Regions from separate parts of the Homo sapiens genome. Here region 1 is linked to region 2. Evidence: fine-mapped expression QTL. A gene starts in region 2. The other region holds a variant in brackets. All regions are shown on one strand. Distances are from middle to middle.

What was found. PIP is the estimated chance that this variant, and not a neighbour inherited with it, causes the effect.
Region 1: its variant is fine-mapped to the expression of LRRC70 in whole blood (TOPMed, PIP above 0.99). The same link has a PIP of 0.9 or more in T cells and blood mononuclear cells.

The regions. Positions count from the first base shown.
Region 1 is chr5:62,601,937-62,610,285 of GRCh38, reverse strand. All of the region lies in intron 29 of IPO11 (importin 11), which reads right to left. All of the region lies in intron 3 of IPO11-LRRC70 (IPO11-LRRC70 readthrough), which reads right to left. Among named protein-coding and RNA genes, the nearest start is that of LRRC70, 27 kb to the right of the region's middle. RefSeq lists a silencer at 142-260. The variant G/A (reference allele first, on the strand shown) is at 4,509.
Region 2 is chr5:62,574,196-62,582,544 of GRCh38, reverse strand. LRRC70 (leucine rich repeat containing 70) reads right to left here and starts at 3,726. Exons shown (of 2, transcript NM_181506.5): 1 at 3,610-3,726; 2 at 1,099-3,144. The coding sequence starts at 3,106. The coding sequence ends at 1,238. The region is part of intron 27 of IPO11 (importin 11); the gene reads right to left. IPO11-LRRC70 (IPO11-LRRC70 readthrough) reads right to left here and starts at 3,810. Exons shown (of 4, transcript NR_073584.1): 1 at 3,610-3,810. It also overlaps the pseudogene RPL35AP14.

The sequences.
Region 1 (8,349 bases), 28 kb before region 2:
AAATCATTTCAGTAATTTTTGAAGGAAAAAAGAAATAATCAGATGGCAAGCAATAAAGTAACAAATATGAGTACCTCTATGTTAACCAGGTTAACATAGCATTCAAGCCTATGCTTTTATTCACTCAAACAGTATGATAAAATATATCCAGTAATATTACAAGTACCTCATCTATGGCTGCCACTGTGGTTTGGTGGGCCAGAGGCAGCCGGTGGATGCCAACAACTGGTTGTTGCCTCACCCATGACTGCTGTTATTCCCTCCTGAGAGCTAGGCAGTGCTTCCCTAAATGGGACTGCTACAATTACAGTATCGCCAACAGCCACATCCAATGTGGTCCCAGGAGCAGGCGCCAGAAGCAGACCTACACATGTGACTACGAGTTGACCTCATATTTGCTGTAGCACCTGGACACACAACAGTTAGAACCTCATTTTCAGAAGCAACCCTTGCAGTCACCTGCTGGACATTAGGACACTGAATTATGTGCTCCCAGACCCCTGGGGACACCAACTAACATGGCAGTCTAATGAAGTGCCCATCACCTCACCCAGCATAAACTCAAACCAGGAAGACATTGGTGACTGGGAGGCCTAGGGGCAGGCCCAGCTCTTCTCCAGACTGCTCCACTAGAGATGTCAAAATGACACAATTGTGTTGTCAGCCCTACATCTCAGTTCTGTCTCTACACTGGTCTAGGAGCTCCTTGAGGGCAGGGACTGTGTCTCTCATTCATTCATTGGTCCATCCAGTCACTTATCCATTCAACAAACATTTGCTGAACACCTGATATACATCATACATGCTGTTAGGCACTAGGGAGCTTGTATCAATCATATATTTGGCCTTATTATAGGGATTTGATCTTCCATGACTGTGAGAACCAGTTAAACGTCTAGTCCATGGAAGGCTGTTTCTTTTTGTGCTGGTGATGCTATAGCCTGAAGTCATATGGCCCAAGGGACAGGGCAAAGTGAAACTGCAAGAATGAGTAGAACCTACAAGAACAGATGGGAACACCCTTTAGCCTCTCATCACTTCCAAGTCTTCAACTTTGCTGATGGGGTATCTTCTAAGAGAAGCCAATGCCTTCATTATTAAACTAGGCATGTGCCTGGCTCTAAAGTAAGAGAAGCTAGAGAGGATCTGGCAGGACGTGGAGTTGGTGCAGTTCCAGCTGCTTCCCCACACCAACATGGTGAGCCAGCAGACAAGTGACAACACACATTAGCTGCAACATCACACTCTGCTGACTTTCTGAATAAAAATCATATGAGGCTACACAGTGTATGAGTCCTACTGCATAACATTCCAGAAAAGACAAAACGATGGAGACAGTAAAAACACCAGGGGCTCAGGGGAGGGAGGGATGACTAGGCAGAGCACAGGATTTTGAAGGCAGTGAAACTCTTACGTATGATACTACAATGTTGGATACACATCGTTATACATTTATTAAGACCCATAGAATGTACAATACCAGAGTGAACCCTAACATAAACTATCAATTGTCAGTGATGATGTGTCAATGTAGGGTCATCAGCTGTAACAAATTTAACACTGTGGTACAGGATGTGGACAGTGGGGGAGGTTGCATCTATGTGGGGGACACGGCATATATGGGAATTAAAATGGCAAATGAGAAAACTCAGTGGGGAGAAAAGGGACAAAAGGGCTATTCCAGATGGAGGACTAGCATGTAATAGAGGCAGAAACCATATAACGTGTGGAGACAAGTCATTTGGTTTAGCCAGTGAAGGAGATAGAATGAGAATACAGGACAAAGTTTAAAAGGAGGCAGACTGCAGAGGTCTTTCTTAAAAGAGTGTCAAGGGGTTTAATTCTTATTCTAGTGGTTTTCAACCCTGGTTATATACCAAAAGAACATGTGAAGCTTTTAGAAAATATGTATGCCTGATTCCCAGGCCCCCAGATACAGTAAGTCTGAAATAGAGAGGGTGAGGGCTATAGCTTGTCCAAAGGTAAAAACAGCAAAGAATATGGTACTCTAGGATTTAAGAGGACAAAGTAAGGAAAAATTGTAGGGCTCCAGATAAAGTTCAAAATAGATCTACCAAAAGAAAAGGAATGATTAGTAAGGAAGAAGAGACTGTGATGAGAGAGAAATGTTGGAGTTCAAGGTTTGGGGTCAAGATGTGGCATGAGAGGCCAGGAGTGGTGGCTCATGCCTGTAATCCCAGCACTTTGGGAGGCCAAGGCGGGTGGATCACTTGAGGTCAGGAGTTCAGGAACAGCCTGGCCAACATGGTGAAACCCCGTCTCTAACCTAAAAATACAAAAATTATCCAGCAGTGGTGGTGCACACCTGTAATCCCAGCTACTTGGGAGGCTGAAGCAGGAGAATCGCTTGAACCCGGGAGGCAGAGGTTGCAGTGAGCTGAGATAGCAGGTTGCAGTGAGCTGAGATAGCACCACTGCACTCCAGCCTGGGTGACAGAGTAAGACTCTCCAAAAAAAAAAAAAAGAGATGTGGCATGATACTAGAAGTGATAAATGTTAACTGCGCAAGTTGAGAAAAGAAAAAAGGTCTCTCAACTCATAACCTGGGTGGACTGCATGTAAGCTGAATACTAAAAAGTATTTTCAACAATGCTATAATTTATCTTGATTACTGAATGCTATAAGGTAAGGATTCTCAAAGGGCAGTTCTGAAGCCACCAATATGATGATGAATTATTCTCATATTATTTGCAAAAGGAAAATGTATTTTATGCATACATTAAAAATTACTGATATTTAATTAAGAACAACACAGTACCTTATCAGTACCAATACAATTCTATCTTTATAGTAGTTCTGCTGAGGTTTTCTAGAAGCAAATGGGAGCAGGCAAAAGAATCAATCTACTGGTTCTCAGTGGTCAAAATCATCCAGAGAGAGTTTAAAAACTCCCACCCCAAGCCACTACCACAGGGTGCCCTGTTGACATTATATTTGGAATAAAGATTTCCAGAAAACCTTATGAAATAGTTTCAACTCATAACAGTGTCACTTTCCTTTTGATGATGTATTCTAAATTCTAACAAGTACAAGTCTAAAGAAAGCTTCTAGATCCAAAAGTTAGACAAAATGAAAGTTTTCAGAGTTGATGAGTAAAGGAGGGGAAAGCAGGGAGGGGAAAATGAGGGAGATATCTCTGTGCTCTAAGAGAAAAATGTTAGCTATGTGTAGGCTCTGATTGCAGGACAATTCCATCCTCACAGTGCAGCACTGTTCTCCATCCTTGAGCCAGTACAGTATTTGGCAAGAGCAGTACAGAAACAATAATCACTCTAAGACAGTACAAAAGCCATGCTCAGGATTTGTTATATTTGGCATGAAACTTAGGATGTACTTATAAATTCATCAAATAAAATGCAACTCAACCTAACGTATAGTTTACTTACATATGCTGGAGCCTAGGCAAAAGACTATGATGCCAAGCTTGCCAGAGCTGCAGTCTACACATACTTGATTGCATTAAAAAGCTAAGTAAAGCTGCAGATTATGTTTGCCATATATATGTTTCAATTTAAAACACATTCAAATGATAATGCAGCAGATGGGACTACAGGCGCATGCCACCACGCCCGGCTAATTTTTTTGTATTTTTAGTAGAGATGGGGTTTCACTGTGTTAGCCAGGGTGGTCTCGATCTCCTGACTTCGTGATCTGCCTATCTCGGCCTCCCGAAGTGCTGGGATTACAGGCGTGAGCCACCGTACCCGGCCGCACACATTTTAACTTCAGTGGTTTGTAATGAGACATAAGGGTTCTCCTTTTTTTTTTTTTTTTTTTTTTTTTTAAGACAGGGTCTCGTTCTGTTGTCTAGGCTGGAGTACCAGTGGCATGATTTTGGCTCACTGCAACCTCCGTCTCCCATGTTCAAGCAATCCTCCCACCTCAGCCTCCCAAGTAGCTGGGACTACAGATGCACGCCATCATGCCCAGCTAAATTTTTTTTTTTTTTAGAGGCAGGATTCACCTATGTTGCCCAGGCTGGTCTTGAACTCCTAGGCTCAAGCGATTTGCCCACCTCGGCCTCCCAAAGTACTGGGATTACAGGCATAAGCCACCACGCCTGGCCCAACTTTTCTCTTTCTGAATGAGCTCAACTGGTAACAGATTTGCTCATTAGCTTGATTCAGCCATTCTGCAATATACACATATTTTAAAACACCATGTTGTACACCACAGATACATACAGTTTTCATTTGCCCATTTAAAAAAAACCAAGTAATAATATGAAAAAATAGGGAGGGTGGAGTGGCTCACACCTGTAATGCCGGCACTTTGGAAGGCTGACAAGGGAGGATCTCTTGAGCCTAAGAGTTCGAGACCAGCCTAAGCAACAAAGTGGGACCCTGTCTCTACAAAACATGTAAAAATTAGCGTAGTGGCATGCACATGCGGTCTCAGCTACACAGGAAGCTGAGACAGGAAGGTTCTTTGAGCCCAGGAAGTTGAGGCTGAGTAAACCATGTTTGCACCCATTGCACTCCAACCTG[G/A]ACAACAGAGCAAGACTATCCCAAAAAAGTAAATAAAATAATAATAATAATAATAATAATAATACTTTGTTAGCTGGTATCATAGAGTTGTGAGAAAGCATTAAAATGCTCAAAACTAGAATTTGGAAATTACAACTTACAAGTGACTATGAGTCAGATTTCAAAAAATTACAAAAAACTAAAGATGTTAATAAATTAGCTGAAGTCTTTATAGTAAAGGTCATAAAATTATTATTCTACTAATTAGAATATACTGGACAGAAAGGAAACATATATTAAATGAAATGCTTGAGCTGCATGTGCTATTCTAAGTATTATTTCACCGAAATGAAAGGTAGAGAGAGAGGCTGAATGAAAAGGGAGATCAAAAGGCTGGACAGCTTAATAGCTTTCCTGAGTGTAAATTTCATCCTTATTTGAAATAAAATATAGAGAATTCTCAGAAACGTATGGAAAATTATTTGGCACATTTGATATAATATTAATCATCTGCCTTTCTGAACTACAATCACTACTGCTATTCTCTACCAAAGCAGCTGCTGAAACACAGACACCACATTTTATGGACTACTTTAAGACAACAATGACAGTAAGCGAATCAAATTTTCATTTATGTGACCTTGGAACTAAGCAGCTATATTTTTCTTCCTAGCAAATAATTTCATTTTAAAATGAGAAAAGCCTTTGCTAATTTTTTTGTAAAGAATAATTCATAACCATTTGCCAGCAAATGTTTACTCTCCCCCTTTGAAGAAACAACCAAGATATTGCTGGATAGTTCTCAAAAAATGTCTAACGTTATAGACAATACAGTTCAAGATTGACGTAATTACTGAAAAAATACATTAACTTATAATTCTAAGAGATAAGTGAAACAAATTTTCTTTGTTTAAAGTTGTTGGAAAATTAGCATGTATTCATAATTGGATTTATTAAATGTTATACAATACACAATCCCAGCTTCAGTCAAAAACTGCTGTGGTATCCTCAGCATATCTAAGAGCAGTGGGTATCCAAGAGCAAGACCAAGGTACTGGAAATCTTACTAGAGATGATAATATAAATCTATATTAAATATCTACTGTAGTAAGTAACTTAAAATCGGCCACTTAAAAAAATAATGGTTGTTTTATAAACCAATACTACATATAATTAGAATGATAAAGTGGGGGTGTGAGCAGTAGAAAGACAAATGTTAGGCTATACTTAGAGATTATTACTGTAGGTGCAAAAAAAAATACTTTCCACGTATTTAAGATACCACATAGGCCAGGCATGGTGGCTCACACCTGCAATCCCAGCACTTTGGGAGGCCAAGGTGGGCAGATCACCTGAGGTCAGGAGTTCAAGACCAGCTTGGCCAACATGGCAAAACCCCGTGCCCACTAAAAATACAAAAAAATTAGCCAGACATGGTGGCACACACTTGTAGTCCCAGCTACTCGGGAGGCTGAGGTATGGTTACTGCTTGAACCTGGGAGGCGGAGGTTGCAGAGAGCCGAGATCATACCACTGCACTCCAGCCTGGGTGATAGAGCGAGACTCCATTGCAAAACAAAACAAAACAAAACAACCACAAAACAGTTTAATTTCAAAGGAAAAATACTTCTCGAGATATATAGTCATGCATTGCTTAAAGATGAGCATACATTCTGAGAAATGCATTGTTAGGCAAGTTCCTTGTGTAAACATTATGGAGTGTGCTTACACAAACCTAGATGGTACAGCCTACAATACACCTAGGCTACATGGTATAACCTATTGCTCCTAGGCAACAAATCTGTACAGCATGTTACTGTAGCGAATACTGTAGGCAACTGTAACCAAGTAGTATCTGTGTATCTAAACACATCAAAACACATAAAAGGTACAGTAAAAATATGGTATCATTATCTTATCGGACCACTATCATATGCAGTGTGCTGTTGACCGAAATGTTGTGTTGCTGAGCAGTGCATGACTGCGCAGCAGGTCCTTGCTATCATCATTTCATTGTAACTTTGAAAAGGAAAACAAATGGATTTGGGCTGGGTCCACTGTCTGTGTGGAGTTTGCATGTTCTCTCCATGTCTGCGTGACTTTTCTCTGGGTACTCCAGTTTCCTCCCACATCCCAAAGCTGTGCACACTAGGTGAACTGGCGTGTTTAAATTGTTCCCATCTGAGTGTAAGTGTGTGCAAGTGCACCCTGTCAGGAAATGGTGTCCTGTCCAGGACTGGTTCCCGTCTTGCACCCTTAGCTGCTAGGACAGGCTCCAGCCACCCACTACCGTAAAGCAGAATAAGTGGGTTGCAAAAATGAAAGAATGAATGAATACAAATTATTGTCATACAAATGCATATAAATGCTGCTCTATGAAAGCTTTCAGCGAGCTCGCCAGATTTGTTCGTTTTTGAAGTGCATGGCAGTAGGAGGTGCTCCTTACAATTTTCACTTTGCAAACATTTATTCCTTGATTTAACCCACCATCACGACCATCATCACTCACTGATTCACCAAAAACAAGGGAAAATAATTTAACTTGTTTTCATTAATCTTTCTTAAACGTATATATAGCTCACACTTACTTCAATGTTAAATATTAGAAGTGTTTTGGATCTTTATTAAGAAGTTCGGTGATGTTTTTGTGACCAGAAATATGCTGTAGGAGCTTCTTGTTTAGATCAATTAGCCCATGGTACAACTAGGTTCATTATATGTTTTTCTGCTTCAAGTTACAGTTTCCAAGAAACTATCAATGATGTTAAATGAGGACTTATTATATGTACAAACATTGTTTTGGGGGAAGAAAAGTAATGATATTAAGAGTTTTAACAGTAATTTTTCAGTTCGAAGACCCTGGAAATATGCTAATCCAATTTCTGCCGCTTTTCACAGATGAGGCAAACGGATCTACAAAGACAAGGTGACTTGCTCAAGGTCACAAGTAATAGTAAAAAAGGACTAGAATTCAGGTCTTAAGAATCTTTGGATGTTGTCCTTTCCTCTACACTATGTGCTAGGGAGATGATACCTAGCATAAAAGCAAAGTAAAATGAGTTAAATTCAAACAGTTTAAAAGAAGGCTCTCAGAGCAGTGCAATGTTAGCTATAAGCTAAGGATTAGGCCCTTGAGAGCTAACGTGCTGTAATGCGAGGTGTAAATACAATGATCAGATTAAAATGACAGCTAACTCTTACAGAGTAATTACTAGGTATCCATAACCATTTTAATTATTTATTCTATCTATGAGGTAGATACAATTGTTTTCATTTTGCAAATGAGGAAAGAAGGTATAATAAAGTTAGTTAAATGATGAGGCCAGAAGACAAGAAAAGATTCCAAAAGAAAAGGGAAAAAATAGTTTCTTATGTACCTATTTTCTATTTATGGTAAAAATAAATATTTAAACATTCACGATTATATATAATATTAAAAGGCAAGATATTTTAGATATTTCCTTTTTTTTTGTTCTTTTCCCCTTATCAGATTCCTCTGGTGAGAATTAGTGGTTTTTACAACAAGTTAGTGGTTAACTTAAGGGCATTTTTATAAAAGCCTGTGATGCAGATCAGCAAAAGTTCATGTGAAGATCTATAAAATAATAGGGAATGCAAGGAAATTTCAGTACATCTCCTCAAAACAGAAGAATAAACATTTCAACTTAAATAAGGTTTGCAGGTCACACATACCTTCCATAAGTAAAACACTAAATCATCTGCTCTGCACTAAGATAAGCAACAGTTATTTCAGATGAAAAGTTAACCTCAACTTTCTGTACTAGGAATAAAATGTATCTGTTTTAGGGTACACCTTACATTAATTCTGTAACATGGGATAGATGGATAGACATATAGCTGG
Region 2 (8,349 bases):
ACCATAAGACCTCGCTTCTGAATTTCTGCATGATATATATTTCCATGTGGAGATCTAATAAGAACCTCAGATTCAATCTGTCTAAAACTGACTCATTATTTTGCCCCACCCCTTTTCTTTCCCTAGCTTAGTGAATACAGCACAAAACTGCCTAAGCCAAAAACCTAACATCTTTGACTTCTCCCTCCCCTGCCACGCCTCAACCAATCACCAAGGCAGTTCATTTTACTTTCAAAGTACCTCTGGATCCATCCATCCTTTTTGCCAGTATCCTGGCCCAGGCCTCTAGCATCTTTCCCCTGGATTAGCAATTCAGATTCCTACTCACCTAATTCTGGCTCCGGTTTTATTGTTCCTTCCAGAAAGAGGGAAATTTCTAAAGGGTAAATCTAATCATTTCACTCTACTGCTTAAAAATCCTTCAATGGCTCTCTGTTGCCCTCAAGATAAAGCATGTAACTATAAAGCTTTCATCACCTGATCTCTCTTTCGGGCTTTAAATCGCACACCATCATTCACGACACCAGCTGTACTGAATTTTAGTTCCTGAAAAGCAGCAGGTTTTCTTCTGTTAACCCCTCTGACACGATGTTACTCAGCTCTCTTCACTGGGCTAATTTCTATTTATTCTTCGTGATCCAGTTTTGATGTCACTTTCTTCATAAAGCCATCTCTCACCTCCACAAATGTTATACTCAACAGCATCTCCAAGTACAGTACTTATCATCGCACTGTGCAGTAACCATATATCTCCTCCTCTAAATTTCAAGCTCTACCTAGAATAAGAACCACGTCTATTTTTTTCATATCACAATCCTAGAACCAAAGCAGCAATATAGTATAAAACTGAAAGCATGAACTCTAGTCAGAGAGGCCCAAAAAGTGTTACAAGCTGTGAGAATTTGGCATAGTTACTTAAACTTTAAGTTTCCTCACCTGTAAAGTATAAATAGTGCCACCTTTCAAGACTATTCACAGATTAAATGTGAAATGTGAAATATTTGGCACAGTGCTTGATACACAGAAATGTTAGCTATTATTACTTAATACAGTATATATCAAAGAAAATATTTGCTAAATGAATACACTGTTCACAAATTATTAAAAACATATTTTAATAATGCTAACCTCATATAATTCATTATATTTCCAACTAAAGTATATAATTATATAAGGAGGTTTCAGTTTAAATCATGTCCATGGCACTGAAGTTTCTTATAGACAATATTTAGTTGAGTTATAAAGCAGAATGTTCAAAAAGAATGACCTGTGCCTCATTTTCAGGAACAATTTGTTTATGAAGTCGAATCTGCTCCAAGCCAGGACTTTCTAGAGAATTTGGGGAAGTGTTACAAATTGAGGCAGTTACATTATACCTTGCTGACTGATAAAAGCTGTAGTATTCAAGTCTATTTTCCCTTGAGTTTTCTGATGCCTTTAGTTTTTGTTTAAACTGAACAACTTTGTAGATCAAAAAAATGATTAAAACACAAGCTAAGATGAAAAAAGCTAGCAAAATGTCAAAAGCCTCATTCAACTTCTCAACTTCTTGTGTACAAATTAGAGATGTTTTCCCTGACATTGAAGCAGCATCATTCGGTAGAGCACTGTTTTTTTCCAAGTTCAAGGTAACAGAAGTAGTAAGTTGTATTTGCACAGGTAACACTGCTGTAGTCTCTAATGGATTACCAAAGGCATTCTCTTGAAAAAATCTACCAGCAGGTGAAGTAGGAATTCGTTCCCAGAAAGTAATGTTCTCAGTCTCAGTATTTTCCAGAGGACTGCCATTTGTGGTTACTTTATGCCAGGCCATCATTAGCGCAGTAGTCTTGTGATGAATATGAGGAGATTTTACAACAGCCCAAGCTCTGGATACATTTATTGAAGATGTAACACAATTTGTAATGTTAATATAACGTAATGCTCTGCCACGCATGGATGGGGGATTCTGACAATAGATGTTTAGAGTAATGGCTGAAGATGCTAGCCAGTCTCGAAGGCCCAAAAGTTTGCAGTTACATTCCCAAGGATTAGAATTTGCCTGAAGATGAATCAATGAAGACAACGGCTTAAGGACCCTTGGATGCAAGGCTGTAAGATTATTAAATGACAGATTAAGGATCTTCAAAGATGCTCCCATATTTTCAAATGTATCATTATCAATGCTAATTATTCTGTTTCTATCTAACTTAAGGTAAATTAAATTCTTTAACAAACTGAATGTGTCAGAATTTAAATTCTCTAAATCATTATGACTTAAGATCAAATGTTTAAGATTATTAATTCCACTAAACCCATCCCTAGTAACATTCCTAATTCTTGAATTTTTCAGGAGGAGGTATTCCAGATTGGCAAGTCCTTTAAATGCAAAGGGCTGTATTGCTTCAATAGGATTATGAGACAAAGAAAGTCTTCTAAGACTTTTAAGTACTTCAAAGGCATTTGATGGTACTTTTGTTAAATTATTACTTCCTAAATACAAACAAGCAAGGTTTTCAAGATGTTGAAAGCCTGATTCTGATATCCTCAAAATGTTATTGTTTGATAAATCAAGTATCCGAAGAGCAACCATACCAACAAAGGTACCACTCCCAAGGACAGTGAGGCGATTCCTTTGTAGATTTAAGTACTGAACTGAAACTAGATCATTAAATACTCCTCTCGGAACAAAAGATACCTGATTATACTGTAAATATAAATTACGAAGATTTAAAAGTCCCTTAAATATTCCAGGATCTAAGCGTTTGATGAAATTATTATTTAGAAATAGAAAATATAGATGCCTCAATTGAACAAAGGCTTTTGGATATACATACAGAATGTTAGAATTATCCAAATACAATGCTACAAGAGAATGAAGTCCTGTTAATTCACTTTCATTTATATAAGATATATTATTCCCAGTCAGATACAGAAAAACTGTACTTTCAGGAAAATTCTTAGGAATACTCGAAAGGCCTAAGTTACGGCAGTTAATTTGTCTCCCAGTGCAGAGCTGACAAACAGACGAACATCCAAGTATTTCTTTGTGGAGTAATAATAAAAGATAACAGGTAACAACCAGAAACAGTCGTAGGCAAGGCAGAGAAAACTGTAATCCACACATATCCCTGTTCTTGGATTTTCTGTTCAGATCAGAATTGGCTATAAAAAGAGAAGGTAAAGCTTTAAATCACGAAAACTTCATCAAATGAATTTTTTTTATAATACTATAACTTCTGTATTCTATTTTAATTAGGATCAGCCAATAATACTATCATAAATCATACCATGGTAATAGCAAAAAATAATGAGTATGGAATACGTTCTAGAATTATTAACATGATCAGGCCATTAACCCACTATTTGACAAAATAGTTCAGATTAATGAAACATTTGCTAAGTTAACTTAAAAATTACAATTGATTACAACACAGGTGACAAATGATGTAGGAATGAGAATCTTTGAATTTAATATGTCCCTTTAACAACATAAAGTCTAATATCAAATAACATTATAATTTATGAAAATACAAATTCACTACAGAACAATTAAATTCTAAATTACAGTTTTTCACAGAACTATTTTTCATGTCAGCTAGAAGTTCATATTTAAGTAAATAATCTTACCAAGAAAAGGAAATTCGTATTATTAACACTCAGCTGATTCAGTAAAGGTTTTCTTTTTAAATCTGAAGAACGACATTTCTTAACTCCAGTTTGTTCTGTGGCACTGCTGACCTCCACCCCACCACTTTTTTTTTTTTTTTTTTAAGTCACCGTTTGCTCAGGAAACACCACTCTTCACATTGGTTCCTTTACAGTCAATGTGTAAAACAGAGGTTGCCATGGATACAGGAAGCTAAGAGACAGGAAGTAATTTTATCTGTGTTTCAAAAGTATTGCTGAACGGAAATCTCAGGAACTTATTTTTTCAGAATGCAGTTAGAGTTTTCCTAATATACACATTGAAATATCTCCTATAATATAAAAATAATAGTTTTTAAAGGATACTTGAAAACATTAGTTATTCAGAACCCAAATATCAATCAACAGACTCTAGCTATCAAACAACATAGCTACTGAATGGAAAAGGCTAGTTCAAATAAGATGTATATCGAGTAATACAATTTTTTGTAAACTTTTTAATGAATAAAATATTTATGTTGTGTTAAATACGCATTGAAGACTTAAACTTTATGCTTTATTCCTTTAATAAAAATAGGGGAAAAAATTTAGAATGAACATAAATGTTGTTATATTATCCTCCAGTGCTCTTTTTAAAATTTTCAAAATATTTTTGGTTGCAAAAAATACTGAGTACTACTTAATACGTGAGGTACTAATTGGTAGTAAGCTACTAATTAGTAGTAACGCACTAATTGGTTGTGTTGGGTTATAAGATGTTAAGAAGCTGCATACCAACTTACTGACATAGGTTATCTTTGCAAGAAAAATTGGGGAGAGTAAAAGAGGCGATGTTTCGCCCTATATATATCTGTATCAGTTTGAATCTTTTAGAACAAAAATGGAGAATTTTTTAACGTCATTTTTCAAGAATTTAAAGAATCGGATATAAATTGTTTATATTATATATTGTTCAGTCATTAACTTTCTTTCATTAACTTTAAGCTAGTTGCTTAAGCTTTCTAATTCTGACTTTTATTAATATTACTAATAGCCTGATAATATTCCTAAAATATCAAGTTATATAATTGTATACAACTCTCCTTTGATATTAAAGCAGTTTCATTTCACATCAACAATTACTTTAGAAATAATATGAATTATGTCCATATTAGAAAGCTGAAATAATACCTAGCATTATCTTTCTATGACTAAAAATTCAGCAATGCATACTGGATAGCAGATCGTTATCAAAATGACTTATGATTCTTACACCTATCCATTATGGCTGGTTACTGTTATTGCTATTTTATGCATTAAAAATGGAAAACAAAACAAGTGACAGAAATGATATGAATTTGAGGTAGGGGCTATGTTTCTCAGGTCCATTTTGTTTAGTACTTCCAATAATATACAAGGTGATATGAAGCTTGTCCCATGGATTTTTCAATTTCTTGGGAAAAATTCAGAGAAAGGGTCCTTTGAAATAAAAATAAAATTAAAGAGAAAAAACCCACAAAGTAATATAACCAGAGTATGAATTAATTTTGTTCTTTATGCCAAAAATATCCAAAGCAGTAAAGAACACTTATTAGGATGCAAAGGTAAAATTTTTAGGAAACTGTATTAAGGAAAAATGACAAAATAAAATCTCACTTCTCACATTCTAAAAACTGAAGGAAACTAAACTGACTTCAACAAAACAAGCAAATATAAATAGTACACTGTAACTCTCAGGTTGAATGGTTTAAAAAAAAATTCCTATCTCCAGCAAAACAAAGTTTAGTCTTTCTGTTCATTTAGGAGTTGCTGTTCTTAGAGACAACTGATCAACAATGATTCCTCATTATCCTTTTCTGATTACTAATGTTCATTACAACTATTACTGAACACTACGCTCAACCTCTTAAATTAGTCTTCTATTTCTTTCCAGGAAATTGACTCATTGAGCTGTTTTCCTCTCATTCTTGTTGCTGAACCTTCTTTTACACTGCCTTTGTCTTCAAATCATCTCATGCTTCTGGTATTAATACACAACTATTCTCTTTTCCATTCAGATTCTCCCCATACAAAAACAAGAATGTATAAATAACAGAGCAATTGTTCCATTAGCTCTTTTAAATATACATCATCTGTATGGATGCATGTATTCTTTTGAGACACAGTCTTGCTCTGTCGGCTGGGTTGGAGTGCAACAATGTGAGTACAGCTCACCACAGCATCGACCTCCCAGTCTCAAGTGATCCTCTTCCCTCAGCCTCTTGAGTAGCTAGGACTGCAGGTGCATGCCACCATGCTTTTTCTTATTTTTGTAAAGACGGAGTCTTGCCATTCTGCTCAGGCTGGTCTTGAACTAGTAGGTTCAAGTAATCCTCCCACCTTGGCCTCCCAAAGTGCTGGGATTACAGGTGTGAGCCACTGCGTCCAGCCTATATGTATTTAGATATATACCATCTATATATAAACCAATCAAGATTGGTTTACATATAAAGAATGGCTTATAATAACAGCAGTTACTGATTTTATGGACCTTAAAAGTCACTGATGGAACTAAAATCAAGAGAATGAAAATGTGAAATGGGATTTGCAATTAAAAATAATCCAGCTCTTCCTGCCATCATGAAGCCTGTCGAGGCCTGCTTGGAACATGACTTCTAAAAGGCAAGTATTTCTGGAAGGCTGTCATCCAAGGCCATTTTTGCGCTATAAGCAGGGTCTCTGGAACCAAAGGGAGCACACAAATCTTCTTAAAACTGAAGGTGTTTATGCCCAAGATGAAACTGAATTCTATTTGGGCAATAAATGTGCTTACGCACACAAAGCAAAGAACAACAAGTGACTCCTGGCAGCAAACCAAACAAAATCAGAGTATTCTAGAGAAAGGTAACTTGGGCCCAAGGAAACATTGGCATGGTTTTTGCCAAATTCCAAAGCGATCCTTCTGCTAAGGCCATTGGACATAGATGCTGTAACCCCTTAAAGATTTAAACTAATGAAAGGTAAATAAAGTGGACTTGTGTTCCTGGAAAAAAAAATTTAGCAAACAATTTGAGAATTCTTTTGCTCAATGTAGGAGATAAATTTTAATGAGGGGCAGTATATCTCAATATAGACCTCTTATCAGTTGCAAGAAAAAAAAATAACAACATAGTAACTATACACAGTGGGGAAATCAGATAACACCTTGACCAGCATTAACATCATCAGTGAGAAACAGATGAGCACCATGTGACTTTGCCTGTGATATTCCAAGAGGGACACATCACTTATGCAATATTCTAACGAGAGATGCATACATAAATCTAACCATAAGGAAATATCAAACCACAAATGAGGAACACTCTATTCTGCTGGGGGAGGTGGGGAGAGGATGGATGGGAGACAAAAACAGAGAGGCAATTGGAAAGATGGAGAGAGATTATAAGGAGTGGATTATTTAAAAATGTTATAAGAGAAAAAGAAAAGACTGAGGAAATGACATGACAGAGTAAAAGAGACTACAAAAACACAAGAACTAAAACAATAATTGGTCCTAGACTGTAAGTACTGAGGAGTAAGAGACCATGGCAAATACAACTTACACAGAAATGGTTCAGAATATAAAACATCTATCTAGTTATCTGACAGAAAATGTGTATCACGCAACAAACTGGGACAAAAGTTAACAACAGGTGATTCTGGGTAAAGGTCATATGAGTGTTCTTTATTGTTCTTGCAGTGTTTTTCTAAGTCTGAAATAATTTCTAAGTGAAAATATCATGACAGTAGCTATGATATCCGTGTAAAATTTGTCCATGAGCATTACTGCCAAGATATGTCACCATTTCTAAGTTTTTAATGTATGCTTTAAAATAAAAACAGAAACAAATATTGTGCTGCCATAACATGGCAAAACTATGAATATCTCTATTTGCTCAATTGTCAACAAGAAAATCAACTAAGAAATTTTTAGCTGCAAATCTATTTATGAGAATAAAAAATAAACTTTATGCACTTTATGCATGAGAAGCATAAAATTTCAACTATGCCTGTGACTATGCGGCTTTAAAAGCAAACTGATACTTTCTAAGGATGTACTGACACTAGGACACTTTCAAGGAACATTATTAATCACCCCCCAGCATGACTTTAGAAGAACATTTTTAACTTCTTGATCTCTGTTCCTGTTACACAGTCATTCTGAGAAGCATATTTTATTTCCATGGACAATTTTAGGTACCATCCTCATTGCGAGTATATGATGATAAATTTCTTTGATGTATATTGGCATAGTTTTACACTGCAAAGCACAGAAAGCAGAACTATTAAACAGAAGGGCTGTTTCAACTTAGAAAAAGCTAGCAGAGATGGATTAGAATTCAAAATATCTCCTCTTTCCCCTGGCTCCACATGAAACCTTTGGAACACTAATCTCTCTTCTGACCCTATCCACCACCTTCTGGGTTTTGCTGAGATAGACTAATCTCACTCAGCAGATTATAGTTCAGATCTGAGCTATATTAGAATTTCTCTTTCGTGCAAATCCCTTCCATTTTGATGGTTCTTATTTTATGCTTATATTACAATTTCCAGTTTACCATAGTCCCTAAAATCCCTAAAGTTTTAAACACACAAACACACGCACATGCACCAGAAGAAGAGAGGAGGGAGTAATTAGCCTAACAGATGATTTAATAAGGCTATGAGAGAGCTAAGCCTCTTCCAATAACTATAATAACCTTTGTGAAATTATTTTCTTGCCTC